2 separate regions of the Homo sapiens genome follow, and region 1 is linked to region 2. Evidence: fine-mapped expression QTL. A gene starts in region 2. The other region holds a variant in brackets. All regions are shown on one strand. Distances are from middle to middle. Region 1 overlaps SUV39H2 (SUV39H2 histone lysine methyltransferase). Region 2 holds the start of SUV39H2 (SUV39H2 histone lysine methyltransferase).

Evidence for each region. PIP is the estimated chance that this variant, and not a neighbour inherited with it, causes the effect.
Region 1: its variant is the best candidate, but not a certain one, in a credible set for the expression of SUV39H2 in thyroid (GTEx, PIP 0.53).

The regions. Positions count from the first base shown.
Region 1 is chr10:14,897,232-14,901,560 of GRCh38, forward strand. SUV39H2 (SUV39H2 histone lysine methyltransferase) reads left to right here. Exons shown (of 6, transcript NM_001193424.2): 3 at 1-286; 4 at 2,308-2,454; 5 at 3,902-4,031. It also overlaps a transcript of DCLRE1C not described here. Among named protein-coding and RNA genes, the nearest start is that of SUV39H2, 21 kb to the left of the region's middle. The variant C/T (reference allele first, on the strand shown) is at 2,424.
Region 2 is chr10:14,876,246-14,880,639 of GRCh38, forward strand. SUV39H2 (SUV39H2 histone lysine methyltransferase) reads left to right here and starts at 2,621. Exons shown (of 6, transcript NM_001193424.2): 1 at 2,621-2,674. The coding sequence starts at 2,644. SUV39H2-DT (SUV39H2 divergent transcript) reads right to left here and starts at 2,414. Exons shown (of 1, transcript NR_186426.1): 1 at 78-2,414. RefSeq lists a silencer at 2,355-3,094.

The sequences.
Region 1 (4,329 bases), 21 kb after region 2:
CTTTGGTTGTTCATGCACAGATTGCTTCTTTCAAAAATGTTGTCCTGCTGAAGCTGGAGTTCTTTTGGCTTATAATAAAAACCAACAAATTAAAATCCCACCTGGTACTCCCATCTATGAATGCAACTCAAGGTGTCAGTGTGGTCCTGATTGTCCCAATAGGATTGTACAAAAAGGCACACAGTATTCGCTTTGCATCTTTCGAACTAGCAATGGACGTGGCTGGGGTGTAAAGACCCTTGTGAAGATTAAAAGAATGAGTTTTGTCATGGAATATGTTGGAGAGGTATGTTTCATTTGCCACGTAGTAAATGATGGACATGCAAGGTTTATACTTTTGGAAAATTACCTTTTTATCTCTTTAAGAGATACTTGGTACATTTTGATATTTTCATTTGCAGATATGTAGAAATTTATTCAGATTTAGGAGAAGAGTTCACTGGCATATTTAGAAATAAAAAACTTTTATATGAATAAAAAATATACGTTAAAACAAATTGATATAGTCATCTTTCAACAAATACACATTCCTACTAGTCAAACCTAGGATTTGTAAAATTTAAAATATGACAACTGTTTTTACCCAAAAGTCCTAAGAAGAAACTCAGATGTAACACATGCTGCTTTGAAACTTGAAAGTTTTAATTTACTTCATCTATTTGACCAAATATGATTAAATGTAGTTGGCAGAACTCTATTTTGGATCAACATGAAAGATACTATATTTATGAGTTTTGTAAAATATACACAAGCATTTATTGCATCCATAATCTGTAACTTACTTTTGAACTGTGAAGACCATTCTCAAAACTACCATACAAATACTAGCAAATTTATTTGTATACAAATCATATATATGTATATATATATATAAATGTAAAAAGTATTTGCCGTGTGTCACATACTATTCTAAGCACTTGATGTATTAATTCACTAATCCTCTCCAAAACTCAGTGAGGTAGTACTGTTTCTTTTTTTTTTTTTTTTTTTTTTTTTTTTGAGAAGTAGTACTGTTATGTCCATTATTGTAGAGAAATTGAGTACCTTGCCCAAGGTCACACAGGTCACATAGTAATAAGAACCGAGATTCAAAGCTCTAAAATCAGTAGTCTTCACCATGGCACCACACTGCTTCAAACTGAAGGGTAGGTTGAGCTGTGACTAGAAAGACACAAGCATGGCTACATATCTGGAGTTGTCAACTCTGGATTTTTTAGTTGGAATTGGGTCACCTATAATTATCTGTATTCATCTATAATTCTGAAACTAAATTAGATGGCTGTTTTGATTCTTACACTTTTAGACAGTGGTAGATTATTATAAATTATTCAGTATACAAGATCTTGTATAATCAAATTACTCTTTTTGTTAACCAAAATTTTTTAAGTTGCATTCTTAATGAGTGCAGCAGCCAAATTTGGTTGGTAACATAAAGTACTTTAGACACTTTTGGTTTCTTAAGCCGAGCGTGTCATAAAACTTGTGTTCTTAAGAGCAGAACTGTAGATGACGATCTTAGACTTACAGAATTGCATGAAAATAACATATTCTACAAAAACAAAACCTTCCATTCCAAAGTTAACATAGCTTCTCCCCTGTATTTTTAACAATTTTCCATTTGTAACTGCATATATATAAGTTATAGGAAAAATGTGCCTGGATCATATTTAGAGCATATACTTGCAGATTTAGTCCTTAACATTCAGTTGTGTCCTGTAGAGAGCTATAGTTGTATAGCTTTTTGAACATCCTAATTATAATGAAAGTAATGCAGTGTTCCAATGTACTGCTCAAATCCTGTTTAAAAAGTCATAAATCAACCAGTTACAGTTAATCCCAGCACTTGGGGAGGTCAAGGCTGGAGGCTCACTTGAGCCCAGGAGTTCCAGACCAGTGTGGGCAACATAGTGAGACCCCACATCTCTATAAAAACTAAATCATTAGCTGGGCATGGCGGTATGCACCTGTGATCCAGCTAGTCAGGAGGCTGAGGCAGGAAGATCGCTTGATCCCAGGAGTTAAAGGATACAGGGAGTCATGATGGCACCACCGCATTCTAGCCTGAGTGACAGAGTGAGACCCTGTTTAAAAAAAAAAGGTCATCAGTCTTTTGCATTATCATTTTTCTTCCCCTCATTTTCCCACCTCTTTGCATCTGAGTCTTAGTTTGTGTGAATGTTTGCTTTGATGACACCTGAATTTCTTACTTTTTAAATATTTGTAGGTATTCGCATATTAGTAGATAGGTAGATGAATGCTTCTTTGGTTCAGTAGCTACGTAATATACTTACAGTTTTTTCTGTTTAGGTAATCACAAGTGAAGAAGCTGAAAGACGAGGACAGTTCTATGACAACAAGGGAATCACGTATCTCTTTGATCTGGACTATGAGTCTGATGAATTCACAGTGGATGCGGCTCGATA[C/T]GGCAATGTGTCTCATTTTGTGAATCACAGCGTAAGAAGACATACGTAAATTTTAGACACGACTAACAATTCAACCTAGTACTAGTTTCCATAGCTAAAGAATAATTCCCTTTAAACTACATATCCTTTTAACATTTCCAAAATATGTATTTTATAAGGAGGGCAGCTTCTGTTAAGTTATGGTATTATTGCTGTATTAGGAAAATTAAACATTGAGGTGCCTACCAAATATTAATAGGGTGTATTTTACAAGAGTCTTTACATATGTTACTTCATTTAAACTTTCTAGTAACTTTGTACGGTAGGTATTACTTTCATATTACAATGAGCAGAGCAATTAAGAGGTAAAATGTCCAAGAATTACACAGAACTGTATCTTAATGGAAGTTAACACGACTACATTTTAGGATGTACAACTGAAGGTAAATGTATTTTCTTAAAATGTAAACATGTTAACTTTTTATAAAATTTAAAGATTTGTAGAGTATTTATGTAGGGCTATTTTTCTAAATTATAAATTAGTATTCTTCCTTACCTTTTAATGTCTGAAAGCTCTTAGAATACAGCTGGCACTTAACTGCAGAATTCTGGACTCTAAATAATTTCCAAAAATTAGGGAAGTTAATAATTTTGGGTTACCTACTAAGTAGCAAGTGGACAGTAAAACATTAGGCTTGTTAGGGTGACATTATCTGCATTTTGTGGATAATAAGGACAGTGTGTGCCACAAAGTTATATAGCTGAACATATAAAGGAAGTAGACCATGTTAAACTTCTGATGGATTTCATAGTAAGAAATTGGTGTATGATTAGCAGAGAGCTTCTGGGCCCTTGTTTGTTGATTAAACATTGAAGAATTTTTTTCTTAATGATAAATTCGAGATACTCTCAAAATAGAGATATTCTATCCAGGGCCATCAAACAGTTTTGATTCCTTAGTATGACTCACTACATCTTTTTTCTTGCATATTCCGTAAGTTTACTGTAGTATTCTCAAAACATTGAAGAGTTTGGACCAAAAATTCAAGCAGTGAAACTCCATGCAGTGTAAAATTTGAGTTCTGTAGTGCAGATTTGATTTTTTAAACACAGTTGTTCTAGTTATTTTAAAGTGTATGCCTTACTGAAATAGTTACCAGTGAAATAATAATGTTATCTGGGATTTGTATTGAAATTCTCCAGGAAAAAAAAAAGTTGGGACTAGAGGAATAAGATTGGCAAGCATGTTACTAATTGTTGAAGCTGTATAGTGGATACATAGGGATTTCTTATTTTCTCTATTTTATACTTGTCTGAAGTTTTTATAAGGGAAAAAAATCTTTTTAAATGTGCATGCCTCAAAGACCTCTAAGCAATAAGCAACTTAATTTCCAGTGGAACTTAAACTAAATCTCTAGGAAAGTAAACATTTTATATGGCATGTAGAAGGGCTTGTTTACACCGTTTGTACTTAAATGGGTTCTAATGTTCCTTTTTAGTGTGACCCAAATCTTCAGGTGTTCAATGTTTTCATTGATAACCTCGATACTCGTCTTCCCCGAATAGCATTGTTTTCCACAAGAACCATAAATGCTGGAGAAGAGCTGACTTTTGATTATCAAATGAAAGGTATGCTTTTCAAGTACAGTTTCATTGGTGTCAGTTTCAATATGAAGAATCAAATCAGACTAGGAACAGACCTTAGATATTTGAACCAAACCTAATACTAAAGATGAAAAGTTGAGGCACTAAGTTTGTCATCCTAAGGTACAAAGCTAATCCAACAGCTAATACTAGAACCCAGGTCTGCCTGAGCTTCAGCTGAGGAATGGTTCTACATCGTAAATTTTCAGAACTTCCATTTTGGAAACTGATTTATTTATTATAGCATCTTAATACTGTACTACTTGTCTTTTTTTTTTTTTTT
Region 2 (4,394 bases):
TGATGAATGTTGAACAGACAGGGCCTCATCTATGCGCTGGAATGGATGGGATTCAAGACACGAAACGAAACACTGGATTTACAAAATAGTGCGATGCATTCATTATGAATCAAGACCAAAGAACAAAAACCCGACAAGATAATTGCAAATTTTGATGAGTGCTTTTTAAGGATGCAAAGTAGGGCTAAAGAATGAGGTAACATGCGAGGCCTCTGTCAATAGGTGGTGTTTAAGCTGAGACCCAAGTGATCTGAAGGTAGCCATGTGAGGAGGGGAAGGAGCCTGTCCTCTTAACCGGAAAGTAATTTCCAGCTGCCTTCAGTGATTTGCTTTATCCGCTGCTCCTGTCACTAGGAAGTCAGCTCCATGAGGACTGGGTCTTTTTTCTTTCTCATCCACTGCTATATTCCCAGCACCTATCAGGTGCCTGGCACATAGGAGATGCACAGTAAAAGATTTCTGGGTAAGTGGGGCCGGGGAAAGGCCAGGAAAATGAGTAAAGGGGAGAGTGGCACCAAGTGAGGTGAGACAGGATTCCCATCACTGGAGGCCCTGCCGGCCATCTGGAGGTTTGAGTTTTATTCTGAATGCTACGAAGTTCAGAAGTGTATTTTTCCGGATATGTTCAATTTGAGATGTTTGTGCAACACCTAAGGGCATATGTCCATTACGCACTGTGGATATTCTAGCCTGGAATTCAGGCAGAGGCCAGGGCCGGAGACGATAAGTGAGGCATCTTGTGTGTCAAGATGCTATTTAAATCCATGGGAATTGGGGCAGTCACATAGGGAGAGGGCGGAAAAGAAATGCAGTCCCAGGACTACAGTCTCTTCTCTGAGGAACCCAGGTTGGACTGAGGAAAAGGAGCCAAAAAGGATTCAAGAGTGGCCAGTGAGTAGCGATGGCCGCTCCTTGGTGGGCTCTGAAAACATACAGGAGAGGTAATGAATACAGGGGCCGGTTAGGACGGGAGGCTGTATCCAAGTCTGAAGGCATAATCCTAGATAGACTAAGCCTTAAAGGGCCTGGATGCTCTTCCAGGTGACAGGGTTGGACAGGGCCTTTTATTCCTTATCTCAAGGTAATGAGATATGGAATACAAAATTTACTAAGGACTCAAATCTTAGAAACATGTCTGAGAAATGCAGTTGCATTGAAACACACACGGACTGCAGAACAGTATTTGTATTATGATGCCGTTTGTAGCTAAATAAAGTCTGGGAGCATGAGTGTGTGTGAGGAAGTGGTGTTTCCCATCGTAGAAAATGATTAAATATTTAAAAACGAGAAGTTAAAAAGAAAATCACTCCGAAAAGGCTATTTCGTTATTTTCCTATACATTTTTTTCTTCCATAGTTAAAACTATATTTCAGGGGGATTTGTTTTGGTTTTGCTGAATACTAAAAGCTTCATGAACACCTTTTTAAGACGGCTAGACAGTATTTCATAATGGAATCAAATAATTAACTATTCCTTTAATGGTCTGCGTTCATTTCCAGTATTTCAAATTTATACATACTGCTTTGAAACGTTTATGTAATTTTTTACATGAATTTTTTAAGGAGATATCAAATGGCCTTCTGCCAGTTTTCGTTATTTGCTCTAAGATTTCTGCTTTAGGTTGTTTAGAACAATCATGGATGCAGCGTCAAGAATGGGTGGGGGAGGGGGGTGGAGACCAGGTGGGAGGCCCCTGGAGTCGTCCTGCAGCTTCCTTACTAACGTGTCCTTCTCCTCCCGGCCCCCACCCGCCACCAGGCCGAGCTCAGGAGCTTGGCAACAACATGGGAGGGGAGCTCGGGTCCCCTTACAGACCTACCCAATCCCAATTTACATTAAAGTTGAGCCCAGGAGGTCTAGTCTGCAGTGAGCCGTAATCGCGCCACTGCACTCCAGCCTGGGTGACAGAGTGAGACCTCATCTCTTAAAAAATTCCAAGTCCAGCTCCCCCACCCCCGACGATTCGTAAGCCCCTTTAAGTGAGAAGCACTGATGTGGACCGGTGGTTTCCGCTGTGCCGCACATTAGGATCAGCTGGGAGCTGGATAGCACAGGCCACACCCCACACCAACCAGTCGGAATCCCGGCGACTGCCCCAAGCCAGCGGAACCTCTCCAGCCATGCCCACGTGCAGCCGCTTCCGAAGCCCGGAGCTCTAGAGGGAGCGGTGTCGGGGGGAGACTAACCATGGCCCACGGGGCTGCGGTAGCTGCGGAACCGTACCCGACAGGCAGCGTCCCCGGCTCCCTAGGTCCCCGCTGCCCGTGTCGGATCTCGCAGTGTGCGAGTGCTGCCGAAGTAAGACGTCTCCAAAGCGCAAAGTCCTGGCCGACGTCTTCCCGAGTGAAGGCGCCAAACGGGCCTGGCGAAGGGAAGGGGGCGCCGGACACTGCCGAGGATCCGGGAGCACGCGCGCTCGCCCCGCCCCGCTCCTCGCGCTTGGGGCCGGGCCTAGCTTTGGGGCGCAGGCGCGCTGGCCGCCGCGGCGGGGGGTCGGCCGCCAGTGACGTCAGGACGCCGTGCGGGTTCCGTCCCCCAACAAGCCCCGGCCCCCAAGTCCCGCGCGGGCCGGCCAGGGGCGGGGCGTCGGGCCAGCTGAGCTATCCCGTCAGACCGCGCCAGTTTGAATGAAAGCTCTACAAGATGGCGGCGGTCGGGGCCGAGGCGCGAGGAGGTGAGGCTGGAGCGCGGCCCCCTCGCCTTCCCTGTTCCCAGGCAAGCTCCCAAGGCCCGGGCGGCGGGGCCGTCCCGCGGGCCAGCCAGATGGCGACGTGGCGGTTCCCCGCCCGCCGCGACCCCAACTCCGGGACGCACGCTGCGGACGCCTATCCTCCCCCAGGCCGCTGACCCGCCTCCCTGCCCGGCCGGCTCCCGCCGCGGAGGTGGGCACTGTCCGAGCCTGGGGCACTTCGGAAGTGGAGCGTGGCCTCTCCGCCCGCTCGGCCCGGCCCCCTCCGCGTCTCCCGTGGCGGCCTCGGGCTTCGAGGCCGCTCCCCGGCAGTCCCCGGTTGGAGGTCCGGGGGGCACGGCTGCGACTGGCTCCTTTGTGGTGGTTCGAGCGCGGCGTGCGGCATGCGCCCGGGCCTTTGAAGTGGGAGGCGGGAAGCGACGCCCGCCGGCGTGAACATGACCTTAATATCAGAGGGGGAGAGTAAATCGGGGCGCCTGTGTGCTAAGAAAGGGGATAAGCGAGGAATCCCCCCCAAGGCGGACACGCTAGGAGGTTGAGTGCCTCGTTGGAGAATCGCCCAGAAAGTGGGTATTTGAGGTTGCAGCCTCTGGCTTACGGTAACTCTTTCACCCACCGGGAGCTTGGTGTTATTTCTGTGGACGCTGGGGAATTGGGCACCGGGGAACTGGGCACCGAGCGCGCGTGGGTGTGGGCGTCGGGGGGTGTTGGTGTCGCGCACGCTTTGAGAGCCTGGAACTTTTCCGTGCGTTCCGGAATGTAAAGGTGTTTTCAAGCTCGTCTCCTCTCCGCTGGGATTATGACCTCATTATCCCTGAATTTTTCTCCTTGGAGAATGTCAGGGGTTACTGTGAACCAGCGGAAGGTGTTTGTGGTGGTCATGAACTATTTAATTTTGTCAGTGAAATCTTTTTCTGCATTACTGGAGACTGTCGAGAGATTGTCTTTCTTTTTTTAACCACGTGTTTGCAGTTTTTCATGTTCACTTTTTTTTTTTTTTTAATTTTCAAAGAGCATTTCCTTTGCGGGTTGTGTTTTGAATCCTCAACTAGATAAAAATGTTTAGGAAAAGCACACAAACACACCTTGAGTAGATAAGAGGAACCTCCTTTATACGTGATTCCCTTAATGAGGTCAGCTTAACACAAAACGTTCTCTAGTTTTTGTAGATGGAAGGGACTTAGGGGGTCATTTCTTTCCCATCACTGTCCTACCCCCAAACGACCACTACAAAGCCAATCAGCCTCTTCCCCCACGTTTTCTGGAGGAAAATACCTTTGTCTTTACTGCTTTAGGATGGAATCGTTTGCAGCCAGTGAGATGGTAGAAATTATGCTTAAGGGTTTCTGACAATGAAGTTTCTGTGTGAGGTGGGGAGGATGAGGAAAGGGGCCGGAAAAGTTATTGCCACTAACAAGTGTTCTCCCTTCCCTGAAATTACCTCAAAACGCAAAAGGTGATCGCAACTACCTTGGAGAGCTACCAAGTAAAGCTTGAGTTTACTGATAGATTTTGTTTGGTAACACCAGTTTTCTCCATTTTTTTCCAGTGAATCTGACAGCCAAAAAGATTGAGACCTCACTAAAGTCACATAGCTCGGTGACCGAGCGATGGGTAGTGCAGAGGACTTTTGATTTTGTCAAGTGCTTACCATGACACTAGCCCTAACAACAAGTTTGTTCCATTTTCCTAAACGTGTTAATTT